Linked DNA regions of Homo sapiens: region 2 is linked to region 1. Evidence: fine-mapped expression QTL. A gene starts in region 1. The other region holds a variant in brackets. All regions are shown on one strand. Distances are from middle to middle. Region 1 holds the start of CORT (cortistatin). Region 2 overlaps CASZ1 (castor zinc finger 1).

What was found.
Region 2: its variant is fine-mapped to the expression of CORT in nucleus accumbens (GTEx, PIP 0.98).

What each region holds. Positions count from the first base shown.
Region 1 is chr1:10,445,102-10,454,723 of GRCh38, reverse strand. It overlaps CORT (cortistatin), which reads right to left and starts at 4,693. Exons shown (of 2, transcript NM_001302.5): 1 at 4,402-4,693; 2 at 2,726-3,347. The coding sequence starts at 4,500. The coding sequence ends at 3,129. It overlaps CENPS-CORT (CENPS-CORT readthrough), which reads right to left. Exons shown (of 4, transcript NM_199006.3): 4 at 2,571-3,347. The coding sequence ends at 3,323.
Region 2 is chr1:10,685,988-10,695,827 of GRCh38, reverse strand. It overlaps CASZ1 (castor zinc finger 1), which reads left to right. Exons shown (of 21, transcript NM_001079843.3): 4 at 1,916-1,954. The coding sequence starts at 1,939. Among named protein-coding and RNA genes, the nearest start is that of CASZ1, 110 kb to the left of the region's middle. RefSeq lists silencers at 850-909, 920-1,119, 1,230-1,399, 1,700-1,789, 9,202-9,496 and enhancers at 8,506-9,106, 9,107-9,706. The variant C/GC (reference allele first, on the strand shown) is at 4,368.

The DNA of each region.
Region 1 (9,622 bases):
CTGGTGCCATGATTTTTTTTTTTTTTTTTTTTTTAAGTAGAGATGGGGTTTCACCGTTTTGGTCAGGCTGGTCTGGAAATCCTGACCTTGTGATCCGCCTGCTTCGGCCTCCCAAAGTGTTGGGATTACAGGCGTGAGCCACCGCACCTGGCCAGGTATTTCTTTATAGCAGCACAAGAACGGCCTAAAACATTCCAAATGAAACCTCTCTCTCTATGGAAAACGCTACTGTTTTTAAGATGGGCTGCCCCTGGCCAGGCGCGGTGGTTCATACCTGTAATCCCAGCACTTTGGGAGGCTGAGGTGGGTGGATCACAAGGTCAGGAGATCGAGACCATCCTGGCTAACACGGTGAAACCCCATCTCTACAAAAAAATAGAAAAAATTAGCTGGGTGTGGTGGCGGGTGCCTGTAGTCCCAGCTACTCGGGAGGCTGAGACAGAAGAATGACCTGAGCCCGGGAGGTGGAGCTTACAGTGAGCCAAGATCACTTCACTGCACTCCAGCCTGGGTGGCAGAGGGAGACTCTGTCTCAAAAAAAAAAAAAAAAAAAAAAAGACGGGCTGCCCTTCAACAGGTGCTGCTTACATCAAGGTAAGTATCTCCCCTGAGCTTCCCAGTCTGAGGAGTTTCCTAAAGCCTGGAATCCTTTGCTGCCAGCCCTGAAATAGGAAAGCTGTGAGTGTCTGTTGTCCTTCATTCCTCCTCAGCAGTTAGGGAGCTGTTCTGGTGCCAAATCCTGGACAAAATAACAAGAGCATGAACTTGAAGTTGCCCAGGGCCTGATTACCCAGATCTACACACCTGACTCTACTGAACTACAGAAAAGGCCACCAAAAACCAGATGGTGGGAAATGACCATTTTACCCTGATTTATTAATCACAAGCATATTCATCTGGTCTAACATGCAGCTGATGCCAGTTAATGTCGTATGAAGTCCCCTGAACTAAGGTAGGCTTAGACTTGAATTTCCTGGCAGTAGCACTAGTAGAGCCTCATTATCCTACAGATAACTACTTAGTTAAAAGGTAAAATCCCCAATCTTAAAGTCTGTGTGGATGACCCCAATGTATTTTATTTTTTGAGACGGAGTCTCACTCTGTCGCCCAGGCTGGAGTGCAGTGGCACAATCTTGGCTCACTGCAATCTCTGCCTCCCGGGTTAAGGTGATTCTCCTGCCTCAGCCTCCTGAGTAGCTGGGATTACAGGTATGTGCCACCAAGCCCGGCTAATTTTTGGTGTTTTTAGTAGAGACAGGGTTTCACCACGTTGATCAGGCTGGTCTTGAACACCCGACCTCAGGTGATCCACCCAGCTCGGCCTCCCAAGGTGCTGGGATTACAGGTGTGAGCCACCACGCCCAGCCCCTATTTTATCTTATTTTACTATTATTTTTGAGACAGAGTCTCGTTCTGTCACCCAGGCTGGAGTACAGTGGCATGACCTCGGCTCACTACAACTTCCGCCTCCCAGGCTCAAGTGATTCTCGTGCCTCAGCCTCCCAAGTAGCTGGGATTACAGGGGTGCACCATCACGCCTGGGTAATTTTTGTATTTTTAGTCGAGACAGGGTTTCATCATGTTGGCCAGGCTGGTCTCGAACTCCTGGCCTCAAGTGATCTGCCTGCCTCAACCTCCCACAGTGCTGGGATTACAGGCATGAGCCACCGCGCCCTGCCGACCCCAATTTAAAAACTGAAAAACAATAAGCATGGCTTCTTTCTAGAAAAAATCTTTAAAAAAAACAAAGTTCTGGAAGGTTAGCTGGCCTTTCAGGCAGGCATCTTCCACCAGTGCACTGACCCAATTCCTGGTCTCCTAAAGCTGCTGTGTTTGGAAACGTGGATGCTATTAAGTCTCTTCCATCACATTATACTTTATTCAGCTAGTAATTATGAATATGAGCTCAGCTCGGCAGAAAACAACGGACGGTCAGCAGCCATTCTCAGGGAGTCCGCTCCCCTGGTGTCCAGAGAAGAGAATATTCCCGTGTCCTCCAGCCAGCCTTTGCTGGTTTTCCCAATGAAGTTTAGCATCGAAAAACCTTCATGGCCAGGCGCAGTGGCTCACGCTGGTAATCCCAGCACTTTCTGAGGCCAAGGCAGGTGGATCACCTGAAGCCAGGAGTTCGAGACCAGCCTGACCAACATGGAGAAACCCCGTCTCTACTAAAAATACAAAAATTAGCCAGGCGTGGTGGTGTGTGCCTGTAGTCCCAGCTACTTGGGAGGCTGAGGCAGGAGAGTCACTTGAACCTCGGAGGCGGAAGCCACAGTGAGCTGAGACCGTGCCATAGCACTCCAGCCTGGGCAACAAAAGCGAAACTCCATCTAAAAAAAAAAAAAAAAAAATTAGCCAGGCATGGAAGCGCATGCTGTAGTCCCAGCTACTCAGGAGGCTGAGGCAGGAGAATCACATGAACCTGGGAGGCGGAAGTTGCAGTGAGCTGAGACCGCGCCATAGCACTCCAGCCTGGGTGACAGCTAGACTCCGTCTCAAAAAAAAAAAAATTCTGTGGGTAGCCTTCATTCCTCCCAAAGCAAATCTGAAGCTATAATCCATGAAAAGAATTGCAACCCATTAAGCTACTAATTAAAACTGGTACATAACAGCAAGTTCGAGTATCAGTTTCACAGGCATGTCAGCAGGTTTTCTGTTTAATATGTTTTAAAATTAATTTCAGCTAAAACATGAGGAATAATCATTTTGCTCTTCGAGCCTGATATTAAAAATTTGCTTTTAATGTGAGGGAAATATTTTTTAAATTAGACAATTCATATCAATTCATAAACTGAAATAAGATGTTATTCTGAACTCTTAATTGTGTAGCCTTTAGCTATTTTATTTTAAATCAAAGACAGAGCTTCCCAGCACCATAATGAACATCAGAAGAAAAGCCCAGTGCCCGCACTCAGCACAGTCCAGTCGAACCACAAAAAAATCTTTATCAAAGATCTTCACTTTGGGTTCCAAATTACTCAAGACACGTCAGTATTGGGCATTATTGGAATTTAAATAACAAACACTTTTCAAATGACTTGGGAAGGAGGAGAGGAAAGATCACTGCTGCTTAATACATTTTATTCAGGTCTGTCATTACACTTGCGTGAGCATTCATGGGTGAGGTTTTATTTGCAGGAGGAGAAGGTCTTCCAGAAGAAGTTCCTGCAGGGCATTCTGTCCCGGCGCGCAGATTGCTGGGGGGGTGCGCCTTCCTGCCGCCTGGCCACCTCCCGGGCTTCCTCTCCTATGAGGGGCCCGGCACTGGCCTGGGAGGTCCACTCAAACCACCAAGCGAGGAAAGTCAGGAGGCTGCTTTTCCTTATTCCTGCCGCTTCCTGCATATGCTTTTAAAGAGAAGCAGATGGCAAAGGAAAGAAAACTCAGCAATCTGGCTCAGGCAGCAAGCATTCAAAGATATGCAATCTCCTCCTTACTTAAAAAAAAAAATGATCTAAAAGACTACCCTGGAGAAAAGAGAAAGAAAATATTAAAATGAAAAGATGCTCCATAGCGATAAGCCTCATTTCCATTTAACGGATGAGGATGAGAAAGTGAAGAGAATACCTTAAAGAAATTGCTTTAATTAGAGAAAAGTTGGTCATTTTAAGTCAAGGGAAGAAACCTGGTTTTGCTCCATACTCTGCTAAGGTCCTTAATTAGGAGAGGTCGGGAAATCTGCCATTTTCCCCTCAGTGACTGGCAGCTGAGAAGCCCGGAGTTGGATCAGGCTAATTTACTCATTCTCCCACCTTTGGCCACACTCCTGGATGTTCACAAGTTGCTTTCTGAGACGATGGGACTGAAACAAACGTTATATTCTGGTTTTTCAAATTCCTTAGAAAGCTTCTGGGAGTAATCTGCTGATAAATGGCCTGCCTGAAACTCATCTGGTAATTTTAGAGAAAAATCCATTTTTAATGCTCAACTTTATATACCCTTTCTTGGAACTTTCTCAAAATGGAAAAAAGAACAATCAATCACCTCACGAAGTTACAAATTCTCACAACGGAAAATGTAATGATGCCAATTACTCTGAGCCAGTGGGAGCCTGTGCTATGTATAACTGAAGGCTCTGGAAGGGCTGTCGCAGCTCCATGCCTGCCCTGCAGTGGACGGGTACACTCGCTTCCCCTTTCCCAGACACCCGACGGAGGGCCCTCCTTGAGCTGCACAGGTTTCCAGCAGGCTTCATGGGTTGGGACATGTAACTGAGGATCAGTGGTCTGAATGCGGCATCCCAGTACCTCGGGCCAGCCAAGAACACTACAAAGTTGAGCCGTGTGTCCTGTCCAAGCTGTGAAGTGCAACACACGTGCACACACACACACCATGCAGGCCAAAAAGCCAACAAGAGACAGAGAGTGGGCTAGCGTGTGGCCACGTCGGGACTGTACTCACCTCGCTGTCTCGGCCGGTGGGGCCACCCTCCAGGGGCAGGGCAGCGGTGGCCGTGGCCCCGGAGAGCAGCAGCAGCAGGAGGCCGGGGGACAATGGCATCTTGTGGGCTGACTGGAGCTTCTCTCCCACCCTGCTGCTGCTCTTCCTTCCTGGCAGCCCTGAAATCAATGTTTTGGGGACTTGGGTCTCTTCTTTGGAGCTTGGTGGGTATTTTAAGCCCAATCTCCAGCTGTTTTTGTGTCTATACATGTCTAACGCCTGGATCCTCTTCCCTCTTCCCTCGCGCAGTGACGCAGAAGCTGGAGCAATCAGTGCCCACAAAAGCGCTCTGGGGTTGGATGTAACCCCTTAATTAAAGCTTCAGGTCTTTTCCTGTGTTTAGAGCGAATTTGCTCTTATTTTGGAACGCATGTGCGCTTGCTTCTGGAGAAGTTCTGCTTCCTCGTAATTATGCCTATAGCAGGCAGGAAGCCGTGAGAACAAAAACAAGTGATTTAACATAATATAAAATTAGCCTAGGATAAGGAGCTTGAATGTGAAATTGTGCCCATGTGAAAGTATGACTGAAACTCATCCAGTAATTTCAGAGACATTCTTCTACTATGGGCAGAGAAACAAGGAGGCAATGGGGGCTCAGAGACGCTACGATCGTATCCGCTGGTTTCACCCAATTGTCGGCAAGGAGGCCCCAAGAATCGCTCCCAGTACTGCCTCTCAGCCCAGCATGCCAGACCCACTGTCCTCTAGGCCAGGCCTTCTCAAACTGAAGTGCAGACGGATCACTTTGCAGGCAGGTCCTGATGCACTGGGGCAGGGAGGAGTTGAGAGCTGCATTTCCAACAAGCACCCAGGCACTGCTGGCCCTGGGGCAGCCGGGCTCTGGCCCACCCAGGCTGGGGTGCAATGGCGCGCTCAACTCACTGCAACCTCCGCCTCCTGGGTTCAAGTGATTCTCCTGCCTCAGCCTCCCGAGTAGCTGGGATTACAGGCACCCGCCACCATGCCTGGCTAATTTTTGTATTTTTTGTAGGGACAGGGTTTCACCACGTTGGCCAGGCTGGTCTCGAACTCTTGATGGTCCAGTGTTTTCTTTTTTTGAGATGGAGTCTCGCTCTTGTTGCCCAGGCTGGAGTGCAATGGTGTGATCTCGGCTCACCGCAACCTCTGGCTCCCGGGTTCAAGTGATTCTCCTGCCTCAGCCTCTCGAGTAGCTGGGATTACGGGCATGTGCCACCACGCCTGGCTAATTTTGTATTTTTAGTAGAGACGGAGATTCTCCATGTTGGTCATGCTGGTCTCGAACTCCCGACCTCAGGTGATCCACCCACCTCGGCCTCCCAAAGTGCTGGAATTACAGGTGTGAGCCACTGCCCCCAGCCTGGACCAGTGTTTTCTTTTTGTTTTTGGATGGAGTCTCGCTCTGTCACCCACGCTGGAGTACAGTGGCATGATCTTGGCTCACTGCAATCTCCATCTCCCGGGTTCAAGCAATTCTCCTGCCTCAGCCTCCAAGTACCTGGGACTACAGGCGCTGGCCACCATGCCCAGCTAATTTTCTGTATTTTTAGTAGAGACAGAGTTTCACCATGTTAGCCAGGCTGGTCTCAATTTCCTGACCTCATGATCTGCCCGCCTTGGCCTCCCAAAGTGCTGGGATTACAAGCGTGAGCCACCGCGCCCGGCCTGGTCCAGTGTTTTCTAAACTGCTCCTGACCACCCACTTGTGGGTCATAGGCCAGTACTTTCCTTTCGAATGAAATTAAAATTAGTGTGCATCACCCGTAGTAAGGATAAATAATGATTCGCATTGTGTGTGTCAGGTGTGAGATGTGCTGTTACTGCAGGGCACAGTCAGTTTGGGAAGCAGTGCCCGGCCCTGCCCTTGGCCAGCTCCCAGGGCTCTCTCTCCTCCTGAGGCTGGCACCACTGCTGAGAGTGCAGACCATGGAGTCCCTCTCTGTGCCACCTGCTGGTTCTTCCTCACAGGCCCTCATTGCTGAATCACACAGACAAATGCACAGACCCCTTTGCCCAACGAGACACCGAGTAAAATCTGAAACATCCACCCAAACCTGCTACAGATGACCAGCATCCAAGGCAAGGCTATAAATTGAGGTAACGCAACCCAAAACTGCCGGCACTTTCTAGAAGTGAACATGTTTGTTTTCAGTTTTCCAAAGTCCTGGTTTACACCTTCAGCAGGGAAATCTCAATCTTGAATTTGTCACAGTCTTTTTGCTTATGTTAAAATCCTAGGTAAGATCAGCATGGCCTGCTGGCCAGAGGCTTATACATCGTATGTTGCTTCATCTTTTATTTATTTTGTTTTTTGTTTTTTTTTGTTTGAGATGGAGTCACTCTGTTGCCCAGACTGGAGTGCAGTGGCTCGATCTCAGCTCACTGCAAACTCCGCCTCCCAGGTTCACACCATTCTCCTGCCTCAGCCTCCTGAGTAGCTGGGACTACAGGTGCCCACCACCACGCCCGGCTGATTTTTTTGTATTTTTAGTAGAGATGGGGTTTCACTGTGTTAGCCAGGATGGTCTCGATCTCCTGACCTCGTGATCCGCCCGCCTCGGCCTCCCAAAGTGCTGGGATTATAGGCATGAGCCACCGCACCTGGCCCATCTTTTATTTCTGTACCAAAATAATTCCCACAAATGACACTAAAAATTTTGAGTTATATTTGCAGATGAGACATTCACAGCAGTTCAGCCAGCTTCTTTTTGTTTTTGAGACGGAGTCTTGCTCTGTCACCCAGGCTGGAGTGCAGTGGCACAACTTCAGCTCACTGCAACCTCTGCCTCCCAGGTTCAAGGGATTCTCCTGTCTCAGCCTCCCAAGTAGCTGGGATTACAGGCAGGAGCCACCACGCCCAGCTAATTTTTGTATTTTTAGTAGAGATTTCACCATGTTGGCCAGGCTGGTCTCAAACTTCTGAACTCAAGTGATCCACCCATCTCAGCCTCCCAAAGTGCTGGGATTACAGGCATGAGACCACCACACCCGGCCTCACCAGCTTCCTATATCGTTAGTCTAGTGTGCCAATTTTATTCAATGAGCTCATTAAACATTCTGAGCACCCAGTATGGAACTTGCAATACCACAAGGGACCCACACCACCCACACCCTGACAGAGGTGTTGCAGCCTCAAAGAAATCGGATACATAGACACAAATGAAAGACAAGGACATTTTTCAGTGCGAGAAGAAGTGTGCAAAGGGGAATGTGCTGCAAATTGGGGAAGGCTTCATGAGAACTGATAATGACTGTTTCAAGAAGGTGACAAACTTTAGGAGGTGGAGACAAGAGGATCACTTAAGCCCAGGAGTTCAAGACCAGACTGGGCAACATAGCAAGACCCCATCTCTACCAAAAAAAAACAAAAATTTAGCCAGGCATGGCAATGCACACCTGCAGTCCTGACTACTTGGGAGGCTGAGGCGAGAGATTCGCTTGAGCCCAGGAATTCAAGACCAGCCTGGGCAACATGGCAAAACTCCATCTCTACAGAAATTAGCTGGACGTGGAGGCACATACCTGTGGTCTCAGCTACTTAGGGGGCTGAGGTAGGAGGATCACCTGAGCATGGGAGGTCAAGGCTGCAGTGAGCCAAGATTGTGCCACTGCACTACAGCATGGGTGACAAAGTGAGACTTTATGACAAAAAAAAAAAAGAAAAAATTTAGCCAGGTGTGGCAACACACACCTACAGTCTCGGGCACTTGGGAAGCTGAGGCAGGAGGATTGCTTGAACCCAGGAATTCGTGGCTGCAGTGAGCTGTGATCATGCCACTGTACTGCAGCCTGGCTGACATAGCAAGAGCCCATCTCAAAAAAAAAAAAAAAAAAAAAAAGGCCGGGTGCAGTGACTCATGCCTATAATCCCAGCACTTTGGGAGGCTGAGGCAGGAGGATCACTTGAGCCCAGGAGTTCAAGACTAGCCTGGGCAACATGCAAAACCTCACCTCTACCAAAAAAAAAAACAAAAAAAAAAACTAGCTGGACATGGTGGCACACACCTGTGGCCCCAGCTACTTGGGGGGCTGAGGCAGGAGGATCACCTGAGCTTGGGAGGTAGAGGCTGCAGTGAGTCAAGATTGAGCCCCTGTACTCCAGCATGGGCGACAAAGTGAGACCTTGTCTCAAAAAGAAAAGAAAACTTAGCCAGGTGTGGTAACACACACCTGCAGTCTTGGGTACTTGGGAGGCTGAGGCAGGAGGATTGCTTGAGCCCAGGAATTCATGGCTGCAGTGAGCTGTGATATACCACTGTACACAGCAAGAGCCCATCTCGAAAAAGAAAAGAAAAAAGAAAAGGCCAGGTGCAGTGACTCATGCCTATAATCTCAGCACTTTGGGAGGTTGAGGCAGGAGGATCACTTGAGTCCAGCTCAGGAGCTTGAGACCAGCCTGGGCAACATTCTGAGACCCTATCTCCACAAAAAAAACTAAAAAATTAGGCAGGCATGGTAGCGCATGCCTGTAGTCCCAGCTACTCAGGAGGCTGAGGCAGGAGGATCACTTTAGCCTGGGAGGTGGAGGCTGTAGTGAGTCATGATTGTGCCACTGCACTCTAGTCTGGGTGACAGAGTGAGACGCTGTCTCAATGAAAAAAAAAAAGCACAAAGTCTCTGAAAGTTATACAGCTACTAGGGTTGCAAACCCAAGAAGCAAACCCAGATCTTTCAACCTTTGGAAAGTCTATAGTATCTATTCCCTAAACTCTTCTTGATGAGTTTTATTATTTATTTATTTTATCTATTTTATTCTACTTTATTTTATTTTATTTTGAGACTTAGTCTCACTCTGTCACCCAGGCTGGAGTGCAGTGGCACAATCTCGGCTCACTGCAGCCTCTGCCTCCTGGGTTCAAGCGATTCTCCTGCCTCAGCCTCCCGAATTTATTTTATTTTTTAGAGTCGGGGTCTTGTTCTGTCACCCAGGCTGCAGTGCAGTAGCACAGTCACCTCACTAAAGCCTTGAACTCCTGGGATCAAGCAACCGTCTGCCTCAGCCTCCTGAGTAGCTAACTGGGTCTACAGGCATGCATCACCATGCCTAACTTATTTTTTACTTTTTTTAGAGATGGGGTCTCACTGTGCTGCCCAGGCTGGTCTCAAACTCCCAGACTCAAGTGAATCTCCTGCCTCAGCCTTCCAAGTTGCTGGGACTACAGACACAAGCCACTGCACCTGGCCAATAAGGAGTTTAAAGAGT
Region 2 (9,840 bases), 240 kb before region 1:
CGGATGCGTCACTTAAGTCACCAACATATAAGGACTCTCAAAATATATGGCTGCAGCAGGGACATCTGGGGATGTCCCATGGTGCACGGTTCATGGAGGGGAGAACCCTCAAACTGCCTTCTCTGGCAGAAAAGAAAGAGGAGCACGGGCAGCACAAAGCGCCTGGCTGGCCATGGGCTGGCAGGAAATGAGGTTCCACGTTGAAGGGGACAGGCCTGGAGACGGCGTGGGGCGGGGGGGGGGGGGGTGGCGGGGAGGGGAGGAGGAGCCGGGATGGGCCTCAGACTCCCTGGTTGAGGGTGCCTGTGCTCTACTGAGCGCCCTTCCTAGGGCAGCGGCCAGAGGGGCAAGGCAGGGAGGAAGCGCAAGTGATGGCCGGGATCATGGGTCGGGGGCTGTGGGGAAAGTGGGGCGCCGATCTCCATTCGTCTGGCTGCGGGGCGGATGGCCCAACTTTGAGGGAGGAGTGGGCAGAAAGACCGGAAGACCGGGGAGGCTCTGGGAGGACACTTGGACCCGTTTTAAGGGCAAAACCAAAGCAACGCCGAGGAAACCCCACTGCGTGTCCCAGGCCGGCGCTCCTGGGGCCCAGGGCCGGGGACGCGCGGGGTGCGGGGGCGCGCGGGCCTGACTGCGCCCTGCCCCGCCTCGCCCCGCGCTCCTGTTCCTCCAGCTCCAGAAGCCGCCAGTGCTGTGAGGGGAACACGAAATCCCTGTGCTACCCCAGGAGCCCCGAGCCCGCAGGCAGCGGGCAGGGGAGCAGGGAAGCGCGCGGCCTGGCGGGCGCGGCCCCGCGGCGCCTCACACCTGCGCCCGCCCTCGCGGAAAAGTTAGCGCGGCCGCGCGGGTCGTGGGGCAGGCGCGCGCGGCGGCCGTCGGTCGCGCTCGCGGGGCCCGAGCGGCCGCTGGCAGCATGCGAGCGCGCGCGCGGCCGCCGGCGGCCGGCAAGAGTGGGCGCGTGCCCGCGGGCGCCTTACTCGGGCCGCGTTCCCCGCCCCGCGCCGGGTCCCCTCCCGCCAGCCCTGAGCGCAAGTCCCCGCCTCCTCCTCCCGGAGCCAGAGGTTTGGGGAATCGCAGAGCCAATGGAGCCGGCCGCCCTGCCAGTGCGGCGCGGGCGCGCGCGGCGGGGGCGCGCGGCGGGGGCGCGAGCGAGCGCGAGCCCATTCACTCCGGCACCGGGCGGCGGGCGGCGGGCGGGCGCACCGGGCGGCGGCGGCGGCGGCGGCGGCGGCGGCGGCGGCGGGGCCGCGCTCTGCTCTTTCACCTGCCGGGGCCGGCGCGGGCCGGGCCGAGGAGGCGGCGCCGCGGCCGCCCTGCCAATCACCGCGGCGCCTGGCAGCGCCCCCGGCCGCGCCCGCCCGCCCGCTCCCTCCTGCCAAACTGTTACCCTGAGTGTTACCGGCAGGAGCAATGACATCAGGGCTTTAAAACAACTTGTTATTCGGGGAGTAATCAGTTGCAATTAGGCATTAATTAAGTATTATGAAAGTTGATTATTTAAGTGAATTCGGCTTTCGACTCTCCGACTATGGTGAGTACCGGGCGCGGGCGGGGGAGGCCCGGGGGCCGCGGTCTCGGGCGGCGACCCGGGCGCGGGGCGCGGTCGGCGGGACGGGGGCGCCCCTGGGCCTCGCGGATCCCCCGGCCAGGGCCCCCAAGCCGGGGCCGCGCCGGCCGAGAGTTGCTGCCTTAGTTGGAGAAACTCAGGCGGCGCGGACCCGCGGGCGCGTGCGGGGCCGAGCGTGAGAAGCGGGCGGCGCGGAGGAGAAAGTTTCTCCGCCGCGGCCTCGGCGCCCGCCCGGGACGGGCCGCTCCTGCGGGGCGGGGGACAAGCAGGGCGGGCGGCCGGGGTCCCGCGAGACGCTAACCCCGTGTTTCTTCTCTCCCGGTCTTCCCCTGGTGGCGTTCTGCGAAGAGTTTGGGACCAAGGAGAAGAGAATGGATCTTGGAACAGGTACCGGCCGGTGGGAACGCAGGGGCGGCTCTTTCACTTTTCTTTCGCTTCTTTTACGGAAGTTCTTATTTTTAGCCCAATGAGGTGGCGGCGGGGCCGGGTGGGGGCCGGGAGGGTCGGGCGGCTGCCTCCCGGCGTCCCGGCCTCGGGATCGGCGACTTCTGAGGCTGTTGTTGTTGTTATTTGCCACTTGCTTAGAGGCTGTGACTAATGTGATGCTTGTCATTATGAAAGAACCGAGAGGAGCAGGAGCTGGGGGGCACCCAGAGAGAGGATTTAGGGGGTTTTTGTGGGGTTTTTGTTCTCCGTGTTTTTTGTATGGCTTCGTGTTTTTTTTCTGTGTGTGTGCCTTTTTTTTTTTTTTTTTTTTTTTTTTGTTCTCTGCAAAGATCTTTGTGTGTCTGGCTCTGGGGTGTGTGTTTTTATTTTTTTAGTGGGGGGTGGTTTAGTTTTTGAAAGCAGCGTCCTGTTGGGAAAGGTGGTTAGTCTGGTTTCGGGGCGACTGTCTCAAGGTAAAGGAATTTAATTTATTTGGGACAAGGCTGTGTCGGATGATCAAGCTGCTTATTATGGCTAATGAGTATTTTTCACCTGAGAATCTGTGGGATGAGGTGGCTGTTATCAGTTCAAAGTGAGGGGCCCCGGACTGTCTCCCACCTGCCTCTTTAGCCCCCACCCTAGGGGTGGTGATGGACCAGACAGACTACTCAACGTAGGCATCTGGGTTTGGGGGCCTCCTGTGGGACAAGGCCGGGGGCTCCAGGAGGCCTGGTGCTCACCTGGGGCAGTTTATCCTGATATTTTGGTGTTTTCTTGGGTTTAATCTAATTCTTTCCAGTGTTTTTGCCTTCAGCTCTTGCGGGCTTCCCATGGGCCCTGGCTATTGAAACCAAATTTTGACCAGGACCCTCACGTGCTAGGTTGACAAAAGCAGCTGTCTTCTTAAATGTTTTAAAAGAAACAAGCAGCCCGATCATTCATTGAGACTGATCTCTGAACTCTCCTGGTTCATTGATGGGATAGGTGATACTGGTGGCTGTTAGCGTTGTTGTTTATAATAGGCCCAAGTTCACAGCATCGGCCCTTGGGACCCATGAGCTGATATCTGACCTTCTAAAGGTCAGTGGGCAGAGAGACCGGAGGCAGCCCTGAGGGGATGAGGATGGGTGGCACGGTGGCCGGTGAAGAAGGGCCTGTGTTTGTTGGGGGGAGGTGTCATTTGCAGAGTTTGAGGACTGTGTGACACCAGGTGTGATCTTGGCTGGTCTGACGTGGAGGGCCTGGGGACCTCTGCGCCCGGGAAGGGTGTGACACCCCCTGCTGGGCAAAGTGGTAAAGGTGTCTAAGGCCAAGGCTGCCACCCTGCCCCTCCCTGCCCTCCACTCCCACAGAGAACCTGCCTGCCCCCACCTCCAGTCGGTGTCTCATCACCTCCCTCTCAGGCCCCACCCCCTTTCTTCGGAAATGGGGCCCCCACCCATCCCAGCCAAGAAGCAGACCTCAGAGATGGGCCTGGTGGCAATGCACCACCCCTTACCTGGGGCAGGAGAGCCTCTGCTTGTGGGCCAGCACACAGGACCCAGGCATTGCAGAGCTGGAAGGCAGGCCCTCTGGTCGGCCTCCTCCTAACCTGGGTGCCAGCTGGAGCCAGCGTCCATCCTCCTGCCATCCACCAACCAGTCCCTCCAAGTCTGTCGTGGGGACAGTACTCCAAAGCCCTTCTCTAGGGTGTCCTGACTGGAGCGAGGGCCTCCCAGCCCTGGTAGGAGGCAGGTGGCAGAGCCTCTTGTGGCTTCTCTCCTGGGCCTTAGGGAGACTGACTTCTCCCAGCACTCCAGGGACAGGCTCTGGAAACTTTTCCTAGAAGCTAGAAGGGACCCTGAGGTCAGCTGCTTCCTCCTGTAGCTGGAGTAGAGCACTCCCAGTGGGACTCAGGCCTGGACTCTGGCCACTCAGAGGGGAGGCCCAGGGTGGCAGAGTTCTGACTGTTTCCTGGAGGAGTCATCTGGTGATACCATCTCAGTCTCTTCTTTGAACTTGGAAGTTTCACTTATAATCTCAGAACTTCAGAAGAAAAGCAGTCTTCCCCCCACTTCACCAAAAAAGGGAAGCAGATGAGGACGCTGAGATCCCCTCTGAGCTGGTCCCTGGGCTGACTCCATGCTCATCTTCAGGAGCTGGGAACAGCTCCCTCAACTTCATAGTGCACACGGCATACAGCTGGGGCCATGGGCCTCGTCTCTGGCCGGGGCTCGTGGCTGGTGAAGTGAGGGTCCCTTCCTCTGGGGCAGCGTGGGCAGCTTCAGCCGAGGGCCTCTCTGACATAGTCCAAGGCCAGGGGCGCAGGCCTCGAAGGGCTGCTGGCATCATGGACCCACCATGCCTCCCTGATCGTAGGTTAACATCCCCGCGG[C/GC]CCCGGACACATCTAGGTCCTGAAGGCCTTCAGCCATGAGGAAGTCAGTGGTGGGAGAGCCAAGCCTTCTCAGGAGGGGACAGAAGGACCTCAGGACCCTCAGGGGCCATGTGGACCCCCTTTCCCCCACCATAGTTCAGCCAAGGGCTGGATCAATCTGGACGTCTTTAGCAATAAAAAATGCCGATGTCGTCCTAATTCACCAGGCCCCGAGATGACAGCAAATTTACATTTTTTAATTAAACTAGCAGCCAGTTTTTATGAGAGGGGGTTGGGTTATGCAAATCAAATGGTTGTGTACGGAAGATTAGGAGAGTTTGGGAATAAATTCCACAAATGCTAATAAAAAAAAAAGGAAAGAGAGGGAGGGAGGGAGGGAGGGGAGAGAGGAAGAGAGGAGGACATAGTTCCATTAGGCCCTTTTAGAGTGATTTCCCTGGGGGAGGGAGCGGGAAGGGGGGAGGGGAGATGGGAGGAAGCTTTCAGACACAGGTACATCCATCCTGCAGTTGGGAAGCTCCCAGGGTTAGGTCCCACCAGGCTGATTCCCAGGCCCTGAACACAGCTAGAAGCCAGGGTGAAAATGGCGGTGAAGCACGGGTGGAGCTCTGAGCAGGCGTTCGCCCTTGACTCGTGGGGATCTGATGATAGTTGCCCCTTCTCTTCTTGAGACAAAGGGGTGGGGCTGTCCAAGGCGCGGAGGAGCCAAGATAGGCTCTACAAGGTCAAGGGCCAAAGAGGCAAGAGGGCAACTTTAAAGGGATGGCCACGGACTGCAGGGGGTGCCGGTGAGGGACAGTGCTGCCCATGTGTCGCTGTGGCTGCAGCCTTGTCGTCGAGGCGGGTCAATGGGAGGAAGCCCGGCCGGTTTCTTTCTCCTTCTGGGGCTCCAGGCCAGGACCCCCTTGCATTGCCAGCAGATCCCCCATCGCAGACAGCCCAGGCCTCAACTGTGGGGAGGCCAGGAAGCGTGGGATCAGAAGCTGGGCCAGGCTGGCTCATTTTCCTGATTCTCAGTAGCCCCATGCTTTGAGAGCATACTGTCTTGAGGTAGGCCGCAGACTTCTTCTAGACGGTGTCTAAGCTGAGAGAGCAAAGAGCTTGGCATCCCCAACCCAGCCCCAGTGTGTGCTGCTCAGGCCCCTGCCCTGAGTGTCAACCACCTTCAGATCAGACCTTCCATGAGCTGCCAGGTCAAGGCCAGAGCCTTGCCAAGTGTGGAGGCTTCTAGGAACCTCACTAGCTCTGGTTACACCTTCGACCTGCCAGGCACCGGGGACTGAGAAGGTTCCTGTGCTGTACTGGAGGAAGAGATTCCACGCCGGGTTTAGGGCAGAGCAGATTGCTCTCAATTTCCTTCCTCCAGCCTTTACTTGGCCAGATACACCCACTCAACCAGTCTAAGCTGGGGCCAGCCCCTGTAGCCAGGTTGGGCACCGGTTTTGCCAGTCTGCTGCAGGGGGTAGGTGCTCTGGGGCCATCTTGGCAGAAAGGAGCTGTCAGAGCCCGGGACAGAATGGGCCATCTCGGAAGTCATGAGTTTCCTGGTACCATTCAAACAGAGGTTTGTGCTGTGCACCGGTTAGTGACATTTAGAGGGACTTGAGCATCAGATGACCTTTAAGATCTTCAGCTGTCTGACTCCCAACTTGATTTTGTTCAGTGGGGCAGTCCTGGCGGGTGGGAGTAGGGGGTGAGTGGACGAGGTGAGGAGCACATTATTTGGACCTTTTCTTTGGTGGAGAGCATTGGAGACAGGCAGCTCTGGGCTGTGAAGTGACCCTTTGAACCAGCCCTGGTTCTAGTTGCAAGACGTCAGAGGAAACTGAGGCTAAAAGGCCTAGCATAGCCTTTCCTCCCCAACAAGAGGCAGAGGCAGAAGGGCAGGTCCGAAAGGCTCCCTAGAGAGACCCCACCCCTGGCCCTTTTTCCCTGGTAGGGACCAGCGAGGAGAACCCATTCACTCTCCTCTCCAAGAAAGGCACTGAATGTGAGTGTTACTCAGACCTCTCTACTGGCCTTGTCGGTACTACTGGTGTTCCCCCAGCCCCCACAGCCCCAGAATCTGGCTGAGCTGCAGCTTGGGTTTTTATGATGGAAAAATAAAATAAATGCAGGCACCTTTGGAGGGCTAAGCCACGCAGCGGCATCTCCTCGTGAAAGTGGCTGCCCTGGCTCAAGGCCGTGCCCGCTGCCTGAGCAGGGGATTGGGTGGGGCTTGGAAAGGCTCTTGGCCCCAACTCCTCTTCTTCCTGGGTCCTGCCAGGTCAGTGGTGCAGCCCCAGCCTCCATCAGCCTCCTCTAGAACGGCTGGCCCAACACTTTTCCAGGGCTCAGCCATTTCTCCACCTGGCCCACCCCCCATGCCCCCAGGCCCCAAGGCTCACCTTCTAACACGGCCTTCCCTGAGCTGATTTTTACACCCTGACCACCCTGGCCGCTGCTCCCACCTCTTCCTCCTTTTCCTCCTTCTCCTCCTCATCTTCAGAGGGGGAAGGAAGTTGCACTGTAGTAATTACCGCCCGTGGGTCCCCACGGCAAGCAGCAGCTGTTCTGGGGTAGCTGGGCCAGGGTACAATGAGTAGGGAGAAGCTGGGAGCAGGAGGAGGGCGGGCAGCCCCAGTGTGCAAAAGAGGAGGGGCAGCCTCGCCGGGACCACCTGTGCAGGGCAGCAGCTTGGTGGTCTAGCGCACACCCCTCTGGCTGCCTGGCCACAGAACAGCACCCTGACACCCTCGACTCAGCAGGATGTAAGACACCCATGTGGGAGGCGAGGCCTGAAACCCAGGAGGCATGGGAGGCTCTCCTGCAGCAAGAGGGACGGAAATGAGGACTGCCCGGGCCCCTGTGTTGGCAGCGTCTGCCTAGTGGAGGGAGAGGAGCGGTCTGCTGTCCCACCAGGCCGAGGAGCCAGGAGCCAGGGACCATGCAGCTTTGTGAAAGAGTGGCCTTAAGGGACCTCCCTCCGCCACCATGCTTTCTAGACTCCTAGCCAGCCCCTTCTCTCTGCGCCTTGTCCTCCCCCTCCCTCCAAGAGCAGAACTCTTGCTTCCCATTTTGCAACCACGTTTTTCTGTCTTTTTCATCCAGGCCACCCAGCTCCCTAAAGCCGGGCCCTCCCTGCTACCTTTCTTGCCCCATGCAACCTTTCCAGCCTCACACCCCGTTGGCCCTGGAAAAAGATAGAGAAGCTGCTGGCTGCGAGCCTGCTGTTCTGGGGCTCCGGGTAGACCTGTGACGTTGCTGTGCCAGGACCCAGCACTCGGACTCATGTGCCCTGATCCCCAGGAGGCCAGGGCCCTTGTTTTCCTCTGCCACGGCTGCTCCTAATGGTGACCATTAGATGGTAGCTGGTGTACTGCCACCTCCTCCCCGGGCCTGGTACGGGCCGGGGCTCACGCCTTCCTGCTGTAAGTGCTGGTGGAACTGATTGATTGATGTGCCTCTTCCCCAAGTGCCTCCCCGGCTTCTTAGTGGGGGCAGAAGGAGGAAGGCAGGAAATGTTGGCCAATTCCCTTGGGACCTGGGTTTTAGCTCCTTGAGAGCTTTCTAGAGCCTGGTTTACAGGAAGGAGCGAGGCTGGGATTTGGGATGACGTGAAAGGGGCAGGGAAGCCCTAAGGATAAAGACAGGAGTGTTGATGGTTGAATGGGACCCACAGTAACTCCTAACCATGACCATGGCCTGGGACTGGGACGTCAGTCTGCTGCCCAGTGGGGACAGGATGGCTGCAGCCAGAGGGTGATCTGGGCCCTTCTCCACTTCCTCCCTTGCCCATCTCCCTCTCCCCTTTCTCTCTCCTCCTGAGCAGACCTCACCACTGCATGTCTGCCCTCTCTCATTCTCTTCCCCGCTTCCGGGATCCCTCCAGCTAGACAAACCCAGGGCAGGGAGTGAGGCCAGAAAGACAGGGATACACCCATACTGAGGGCCAGCCAGGCGCCAGGGCTTCAGGCCTCTGCCCCGGGCGTGGTATGTGGGCCACTCCTGGCCGGGGCATCTGCTCTTAGAATGTCCCACAGGCCTGACTCTGGGGTCTCCTCTGGCCCTTCTGGGCCCTGCTGGTGCTGTAATCACTCACCTGCTGACACCCTTCCTAAAGCCAAGAGGGCTGTCTCTTGATGCCACCTGGCTGAGGCTGGGGCACTGCCTGGCTTTGGAGGAGAAGGCAGGAGCTGGGAAACGGACACATGTTGTGTTTCCAGAGACCAGGTGTTCCCAAAGGTCGCCTGGCCTTTTCTTATGGGGCTCTTTCAGTGATCTAAGGGGGCCTTGGGAGGGACTGCGCTGTGTGAGAATGGGGGACTGGAGGAGCCGGGCAGAGCTTTAGATGGGGGGACCCTAGTGCAGCGGGAGAGCAGGAGGCGTCCCAGAGGCCTGTTGGGAGAGACTCCTGGAAGTTTTGTCACCGGGAAGTGCCTCTTCCCTGCAGCTGTGATCCTCACCGCCCTCTAGCCCAGTGCCTCCCTGTCTGTCACCCCTTCAGCCTGGGAACCCAAGGCCACAGGAAGCCGGGCTGCCTCGCAAAAGGATGACCCGGCTCTCCACTGCCCGGCAGGGGGTGCCCCACGGCATCTGCCCCCCATCCTTTTAGGTGTGGGGCAATGTGGTCAGGACCTGGTCCAGGCCTTCTGGCCACGGGTGGGGGAGGGGCAGCCTAGCGTCCCCACCCCCAGAGGTTCCTTGGCTGAGTTTGTTTGCCAGGGTGACCTGTTTAATCATCTCATTTTCTGGTGGCCGTTTATTCCTCGTTTCCACGGTTACGGCCCCATTAAGGGGAGAAGCAATAAGGCGGTGAGTCAAACAGGTAATAAAAACATGCAGAGCCCCTGTGCACCAAGAGAGGGTGGCGGGGAGGGGCGCAGTGAGCTGAGACGGCCTGGGGGGAAGCCCAGGTGACACCCTACCCGCCTTGTCTTCCAGAGGCCCGAGTGTCCCCAAGACCCAGTCCTCGGCTTAGAACTGTCCCCAGCCCTTGGTCCCCTGGGCAACAGGCTGTCCCAGGTAAAACAGGAAGGAGAAAGGTGAGAGGGGGCGTGATACAAGCCCCCCCAGGGCTGCCCCATAGTTGGTGTGTGACCTGTTTCCAGGCCCCACCTCGTGCTCCCTTGGTAGGGGCGGGGGATGATTTCTGACATTGGTTTGAGCTCTAGAATTTTTTTTCTGCCAACTTTATCAGAAAGCATATTTGTGGTGAGTGCTGCTAACAGGGCCAGTCCAGTGAGTAAATATTCCTGGTGTGGACGGCCCTGTGACCTTGAGAGGGAAGAGTACAGTGGTTCGGCCAAGGGCATGTAAGGAGAGGAGAGGACGGCCAGGCGCCCACAGGCCCCCGTGCTGGGTGGGGGGCCCTTCCTGGGAAGGGGTCAGGTGGGGGCCACGGGGTCAGGTTGGCCCCAGTAGCCTCTTCCCAGCAGCATGGTCTACCTCAGGCCCCAGTGACACCAGCTGGAGCTGGTTTGTGTGACTTGCT